Linked DNA regions of Homo sapiens. The protein of the gene in region 2 purifies or fractionates together with the protein of the main gene of each other region. This does not show direct contact. Each region holds a gene or a part of one and is shown on either strand. Other genes may lie near its edges. The genes, in order: P4HA2 and ACAD8.

The links.
Region 1: the proteins of ACAD8 (region 2) and P4HA2 fractionate together in Homo sapiens (co-fractionation; one large-scale study listed by BioGRID). This does not show direct contact.

Annotation. Positions count from the first base shown.
Region 1 is NC_000005.10:132,193,249-132,197,066, reverse strand, and holds part of P4HA2 (prolyl 4-hydroxylase subunit alpha-2 isoform 2 precursor), read left to right. Parts: intron 1-1,586; coding exon 1,587-1,655; intron 1,656-2,044; coding exon 2,045-2,141; intron 2,142-3,818. UniProt on the Homo sapiens protein: Catalyzes the post-translational formation of 4-hydroxyproline in -Xaa-Pro-Gly- sequences in collagens and other proteins.
Region 2 is NC_000011.10:134,263,348-134,266,453, reverse strand, and holds the end of ACAD8 (isobutyryl-CoA dehydrogenase, mitochondrial), read right to left. Parts: coding exon of another isoform or gene 2,958-3,106; exon of another isoform or gene 2,509-2,957; intron 1,547-2,508; coding exon 1,494-1,546; 3' UTR 599-1,493; downstream 1-598.

The DNA.
Region 1 (3,818 bases), on a different chromosome or scaffold from region 2:
GGCAGTAAAGTAACTTGGAGACAGAAGCCTGTGTCCATTTTTTCCCTTTATGCTTTTATTGTGTGGTTATTACATGCTGGGGATTGTGCTGTGTACATGCTGGTGAGCAGAACATATGTGGTCTCTCTTGTGCTTGAGGTCCAATATGAGAGACTTATTTTAAACATCAGAGAGATTCTTCTTTATCTTTTTTTTTTTTTTTTTTTGAGACAGACTCTCCCTCTGTTGCCCAGGCTGGAGTGCAGTGGCGCTATCTCAGCTTACTGCAAACTCTGCCTCCCAGGTTCAAGCGATTCTCCTGCCTCAGCCTCCCAAGTAGCTGGGATTATAGGCGTGCACCACCATGCCCAGCTAATTTTTGTATTTTTAGTAGAGATGAGGTTTCACCATCTTGGCCAGACTGGTCTCAAGCTCCTGACCTCAAGTGATCCACCCGCCTTGGCCTCCCAAAGTGCTGGCATTACAGGCGTGAGCCACCATGCCCAGCCTAAACATCAGAGAGATTATTATGTAGTTATGGAGACAGGTGCTGTGAACCCCAGGCTTGGGGTTCAGTGGAGGCCTCTCTTTGGAAGTAACATATCAGTTGAGACTTAAAAGTTGAGTGGAAATTAGCTGGTAGAACATGGTTTCTGGCAGAAGAGAGAGTGTATGTAGTCCTGTAAGAGAAAAGGAACTTGGGATGTTGGAAAGGTAGAAAAAGGCTGGTGTGTCTGGAGAGAGGCTAGTGAGACTGACAGGGCCTTGGGGTTCTAGAAAAGAATCTGAGTTTGATCCACAGGGCTGTGAGAAGCCATCAGAGCTTTTGTCTTATTCATTTACCATATGTCTGTCAAGTACCCTTCAGTGAGTCTGGTATGTGTCCTGTGGAAATATTTTTTACCTCCAATTTTTATTAAATTATGGACAAAAAAAGTAAGAGAGCCAGATGGGAAAGAAGTAGTGCTTTGGCCATGAGTCAAGGCATGCTCTGTGGGCATGAGTACAGCCTTGCTAGTGTGGAACTTGTGTTCAATGTAGTTTAAGGCCTTACCATAGGAGAAAGCAGGGCCTCTAGAGACACAGTGCCCCACCCTTCCACTCAGTTGGCCCCAGGAAGGGTGGCTACTCTGGGAAGGTGAAGGTCTGACTAGAGCAGCAAACTACTAGAGCCAGAGAAACAGAGCTGCAGTGGGGACTGCACATGGTGTTGGAAACAGTACAGAGCTCCTGGTCAGGGCACTTTGCAGAGTACAGTGGCTTAGGCAAGGCCAAGGCTAGATGGGGATTCAAAGGGTGGGGTCAGAACAGGCATTTTCTGAGTACAGACTCAGATTATTTTCATCCAGGGACAGCCCGGATGTGGGTCTCCTGTGGGCCTCAACTCTTGAACACTCATGACATGGAGACTGTTCTAATGAATCACACTGGTTAAGTAGGCATGGGAAGAGCCTTTCTTGGCTAAAGGGCTGGCCATGGAGCAGACACCAAGTAGTGTCACTCATGCTGAGAGGAGGGCAATCTATATACCTTGTCATGTCCTTTGTGGCTCAATTGCTCTGAGAGCCTTGGGTAGGAGGGTCAAGCTCTATGTCTTATATTTCCAGATGAGTGATGTAGAAGCTGGTGGTGCCACCGTCTTCCCTGATCTGGGGGCTGCAATTTGGCCTAAGAAGGTAAGTTCTGATTCTTGTGGGTCAGAGGTTGAAGCAAGGCTCAGACTTTACTTTGTCCATGTCCCCCAGTACCATTACCTGGCCTGCCTGATTGTCACTGTGATGTGCCTTAGCCCACCTGGGGTCTGACCTGGTAGCCCAGCTTCTCCCTGTGAAGAAAGGACAGGGAGGGAAGTCCCTTCAGGGGCGGGTGAGTTCCCAGACTTCTACCTCAGAAAGGTAGGTGCTTTCTGGGAAATGTCTCTGTTGCTGGAGTCCCAGAGCCCTATCCCCTGTCCATGGGAAAATGAGGGTGTTTCTGCTCAGGGCAGAGCTTCTGTGATGCTTGCAGTCAGGTCCCTGAGCACAGTCTCTTAAGAATGTGTTCTGAAAGGCCATCTCTTTCCCAGGGTACAGCTGTGTTCTGGTACAACCTCTTGCGGAGCGGGGAAGGTGACTACCGAACAAGACATGCTGCCTGCCCTGTGCTTGTGGGCTGCAAGTGGGGTGAGTGTCTTAAGGGGTAGTGTTGGTGTTGGTGGCCTCAGCTTGGGCTTTGCTTATTGGCCTTAGATTCTGAGCTGGGAGGCAACTGCTGCCAAATTTGCTGAGACTGTCTCCCTTCTTAGGTTTTTTTCTGCTGTTATTACCATCCAGCCATGTAATGTCCATGCAGCTGGTAAATGCCAAGGCAGCTGGTTGGAAACACTCAGAGATACACAGGAAGCTGAAGAAGGCCTGAGGACGAATAGCTGCATAAGCACCATAGGTCCAGGACCCTCTGGCAAGGCTTCTGAGGGAGCAGAGTGGAGAGCTGGAAGCAGTGAGGGGAAAGAGTGTCTCAGGCAAACAAGGCCCATATGGATGGAGGCACAGGCTAAAACCAGCATACGGGTGTGGGGGCTGGCTCCCTTGTCACTTGAAGAAAGGGAGGCCTGTGGCACAGGGGCCAGAAGATGAGGCTGGAGGCTGGGACCAAACTGCAGAGGCTCAAGCTTGAGCCTTATCCTGGGAGCAGTTGTGGTGAGCCTCGGAGAGGCTCAAACCAGGATATGACAGGAAGTGTTTGTAAGGAGATGAGTGTGTAGCCCCCTTGGAGAGTTTTGAAGATAAATAGTGATAGGTTTGCAGATAATTAAGCAAATGGAAAAGAAAACAAGGCAGTTGCTGAATTCAGGGGAAAAAAAGTTGTACAAGAAAGGAAATGTAAGTATAATCTACTAGATGGCTCAGGTGTAACACATGATATAATTATGTACACACTGAGTATTACTTTAACTAAAACTTATGATTTACCTGTACTGGAAAGGTGGGAGGGGATGAGTTTGTGTTTTAGGGGTAGAATAAAAGAATTCCAAAGTTGAAAGTCAAGGAATAGAACTATAAGCATCTTATCTAGAAAAATGAGGTTAAATATCAGAAGAAACAGCTAGAGGAGTTTAATGTTCCCTGGGAGTGGAGATTAGGGATGGGAAGGAGAGGCTTAGGAGGAGTGCTATTTATCATTATAAGCCTTGCGACAATTTTATTTTTTTCAATGAAGTACATGTTATTACTTTATATTTTAAAAGCTCTGTGACTTCAGTAGTGCATTGAAATAAAATTTTTATTCATTATGAGAGAGTCTGTGAGGAACAGAATCATGGTTCCTGTGTGTTTGAAGATATGGCGTGGGGTGATAGTGCTGGCAGCAGCTCTGTTGCTCTTGTGCCCATGGCATACAGACTGGATCTGCTGGTCCACGGCTCCTGAGGTTAATGTCCAAGCCCTCTGCAATGCTGACAGTCTTCCTCATCCTCACACCCTACCTCTCAGTTTCTACCTGCCACCTCCCAGTAATATTAGGCCTCTTGAGTCCCCAACACACGTCAGGGTGGCTTCTGCCTTGATTACTTTCTCATCCTGTTGTCACTCCTGGGACCCTCTTGGTGAGAGAACCATCTGGGTATGCCCATCTTCTTCCCAGGATAACTTCTATGTAGCTTTATATTCTAGCCCTAGGATTTCCTCTTCCCTCTAAGAGCAAGAAACATGTGTGCAGGTTGCCATGGGAATAGAGCCAAAGGGCATCAAAGGTCATGGGCATGAAAGGGCATGATTAGATGCCCTTGGGTGCTATTCCCATGGCAACCTGCACACATGTATCTTGTCCCACTGGCAGAATTTCATACAATTATCTGTTTA
Region 2 (3,106 bases):
ACCCTGTCCTCCTGCAGCACCCAAAACTTCCTTCATTCAAAAAAGACAGTATTTGTTGTTGTTACAGACACATATTCTCTTCTCTCTAAACATTGGCTTGTAGTTAATGTCTTGCGTATTCTTTTCAATAGGGATGAGGGGATGGAGTAACATAGTAAGTTATAACAGAGCTCCCCTGGCTGGGCACAGTGGCTCACACTTGTAATCCCAGCACTTTGGGAGGCCGAGGTGGGCAGATCACTTGAGGCTAGGAGTTTGAGACCAGCCTGGCCAACATGGTGAAACCCTGTCTCTACTAAAAATACAAAAAGTAGCCGGACGTGGTGGCTTGCGCCTGTAGTCCCGGCTACTTGTGAGGCTGAGGCAGGAGAATCGCTTGAACCCCAGAGGAAGAAGTTGCAGTGAGCTGAGATTGTGCCACTGCACTCCTGCCTGGGCGACAGAGCGAGACTCTGTCTCAAAAACAACAAAAAACAGCAAACAAACAAACAAAACAAGGTCTCCTGAAGTCCCATCTGTGAATCTCACTTTAATTCTACTTTCATACATCATAAACAATGCTTAGTTTGCAAAGTTATTAATAATTTAAGGAGCCTGCTTTTTAAAAGCCAAATTGGACGAGAGTTTTATTATTCCAAAATCCAGTTAAGTGTTTAATCAAATACAATTAAACATTTAAAATAAAAATCAACTATAGTAGAACCAGAGGTGGTGAAGGATAGATTTTATCAATGTGATTAAAAATATTTAAAAGGAGGAACAGCTTCAGAAAAGGAAACAAAAACACAAAAAAAATATTCAAAGTGTTTATCAGGAAAAGAAACACTGAATAGCACTCCTAGACCACAGGCTTCTTAACATGAAACCCAACGAATATTCAAAATTCAAAAGTCTCAGCCCTTGATATTGAGGCAGTCCAGAAGTAGAAATACACCCTAAATCACAGCTTAGGAGTAAGTTTCCAAATATCCATTTTATCATGATTTACATTCAGAGGTGTGCTATCCAGAGAAACCTTCTGCATCTGTAGCTGTGGCACAGAGAACGACACAGACAGGAGGGCATTCCTCCATTTCCCCTTCCCACACCTTTGCTCTAGAATCAGGAAGAGCATCAGTGAAAGTCCCCAGGCCCCTAGAGGAGGGATCCAGTGAACTAGTAAAATGCAGACTAATCAAGATAAAGTGGATCCAAGAAAGGACTTTCATGGTTTGACGGTGAATCTTCACTGGTCACCCTTCTGGCATTAGGAAAACAAGGTAGTATGTGTTCTTCTGATGTTTCTCATCAGTCCAGCTCTTCCGGTTCCACTGGGGATTCTGCCCCAGTCCAAGACCCGATGCTGGTGCCAACACACAGGGTGCAGGTCCTGCCCTAGAGGAGCTCAGCCCTTGGGTCTAATCCATGATTCCTTTGGAATAGAGCGGCCCACATGGCACCACTCAACACTGACTGCAGTCGCACTGAACACCAGGCCAGAACAAGTGTGGGTTCTACTCCTGAAGCAGGCTTCTAGAGATCAGTATCCTCATCACTTCATTGCTACCTGTAAGAGGGAGGAAGGAGGAAGAATTTCACAGCAGCAAAGTCTGAGAGTTTAGTAAAGCTCTGACCAGGCTGCTCCAGGCCTAGTTCAGAGTAGCTGCAGATTTAAACTACAATCATTGCTTTTAGCCTGGGAGAGATGAGATTATCAGAGACTTCTCTACAAAGTACTGAAAAATGTCAGGAAATAATACTTTTTTAAAAACTTCTTCTGATGGTAAAAATGCTTATATAAAGTTTAAAAAGGCAGAATAAAAACAGTATATACAGGATAATTCTAATTAAAATTAAAAATGTACCAACAAAGGCAGAGTAAAATGCCTAAAAGGAGATGTACCAAAATAACATTCTGGATGTAGAAACATGAGTGATTTTTTTTCTTTTACTTTTCTTTTGAGACAGTCTTGCTGTCGCCCAGGCTGGAGTGCAGTGGTGTGATCTTGGCTCACTGCAACCTCCGCCCCCCAGGTTCAAGCAATTCTCTTGCCTCAGCCTCCTGAGTAGCTGGGACCACAAGCATGTGCCACCAGGCCCCACCAGGCCCGGCTAATTTTTTGTATTGTTTTTAGATGGAGTCTCACTGTCACCCAGGCTGGAGTGCGATGGTGCAATCTCAGCTCACTGCAACCTCCACCTCCTGGGTTCAAGCGATCTTCCTGCCTCAGCCTCTCGAGTAGCTGGGATTCCAGGCATGCACCACCACGCCCAGCTAACTTTTTATAATTTTAGACAGTCGGGGCTTCACCGGGTTGGCCAAGCTGGTCTCGAACTCCTGGCCTCACGCGATCCACCCGCCTCAGCCTCCCAAAGTGCGGCGATTATAGACATAAGCTACCGCACCCAGCCTACTTTTCCTAATTTTATAAGGTTTCAACAATAAATACACATTTCTTTGGTAATCAGAAAACTGACTTACAAAAGAATGAAAACATTTTCCCTGAAAGGAGGGTATCAATTATTTGCTTCATTTTTAGCAGTGGCCTTTAATGCAAAAAGAAATATAAACCCCCTCGAGGAATCAGTAGTCACATCGTCTCAAATAAAGCATAAACTGTAGATTTATCCAACAGTAAAGTCCATGATGAAACAAAGTGATACAGTGATGAGTGCCCCAATTCTTCTGTAAGTGGGTGATGGTGTGGCCTACAATAAATGTTTTCCTGCTTATTATTGCAGGGTGGAGAGAGAGTTAGAATGAAGGCGAAGTTTCCTACGCACATAAAGCTCAGTGAGAAAGCAATTCCAAGAGTAATGGAAGGAAAACGACTCTCGGGAATTCAGTTTGAACACTGGCGACTGAGCCCATAAACATCTTTCTGGAATGAGGTTTGCAGAAGAAAGCAGCGGTCTAACCTGTGGTAGCCTGTGACTCTGACATTAACACCAGAGCGGTGGGTCTCAAAGTGTGGTTCTCAGACAAGCTGTGGCAGCCTCACTTGAAGACTTGTTGCAGATACAAATTCCCAGGCCCACACTAGACCCTCTGGAGCAGAAGCTCTGGGGTTGAGGCCCGCAATCTGCGCTCCCATGCCCTCCAGGCGATTCCAGCACAGGCTGAGGT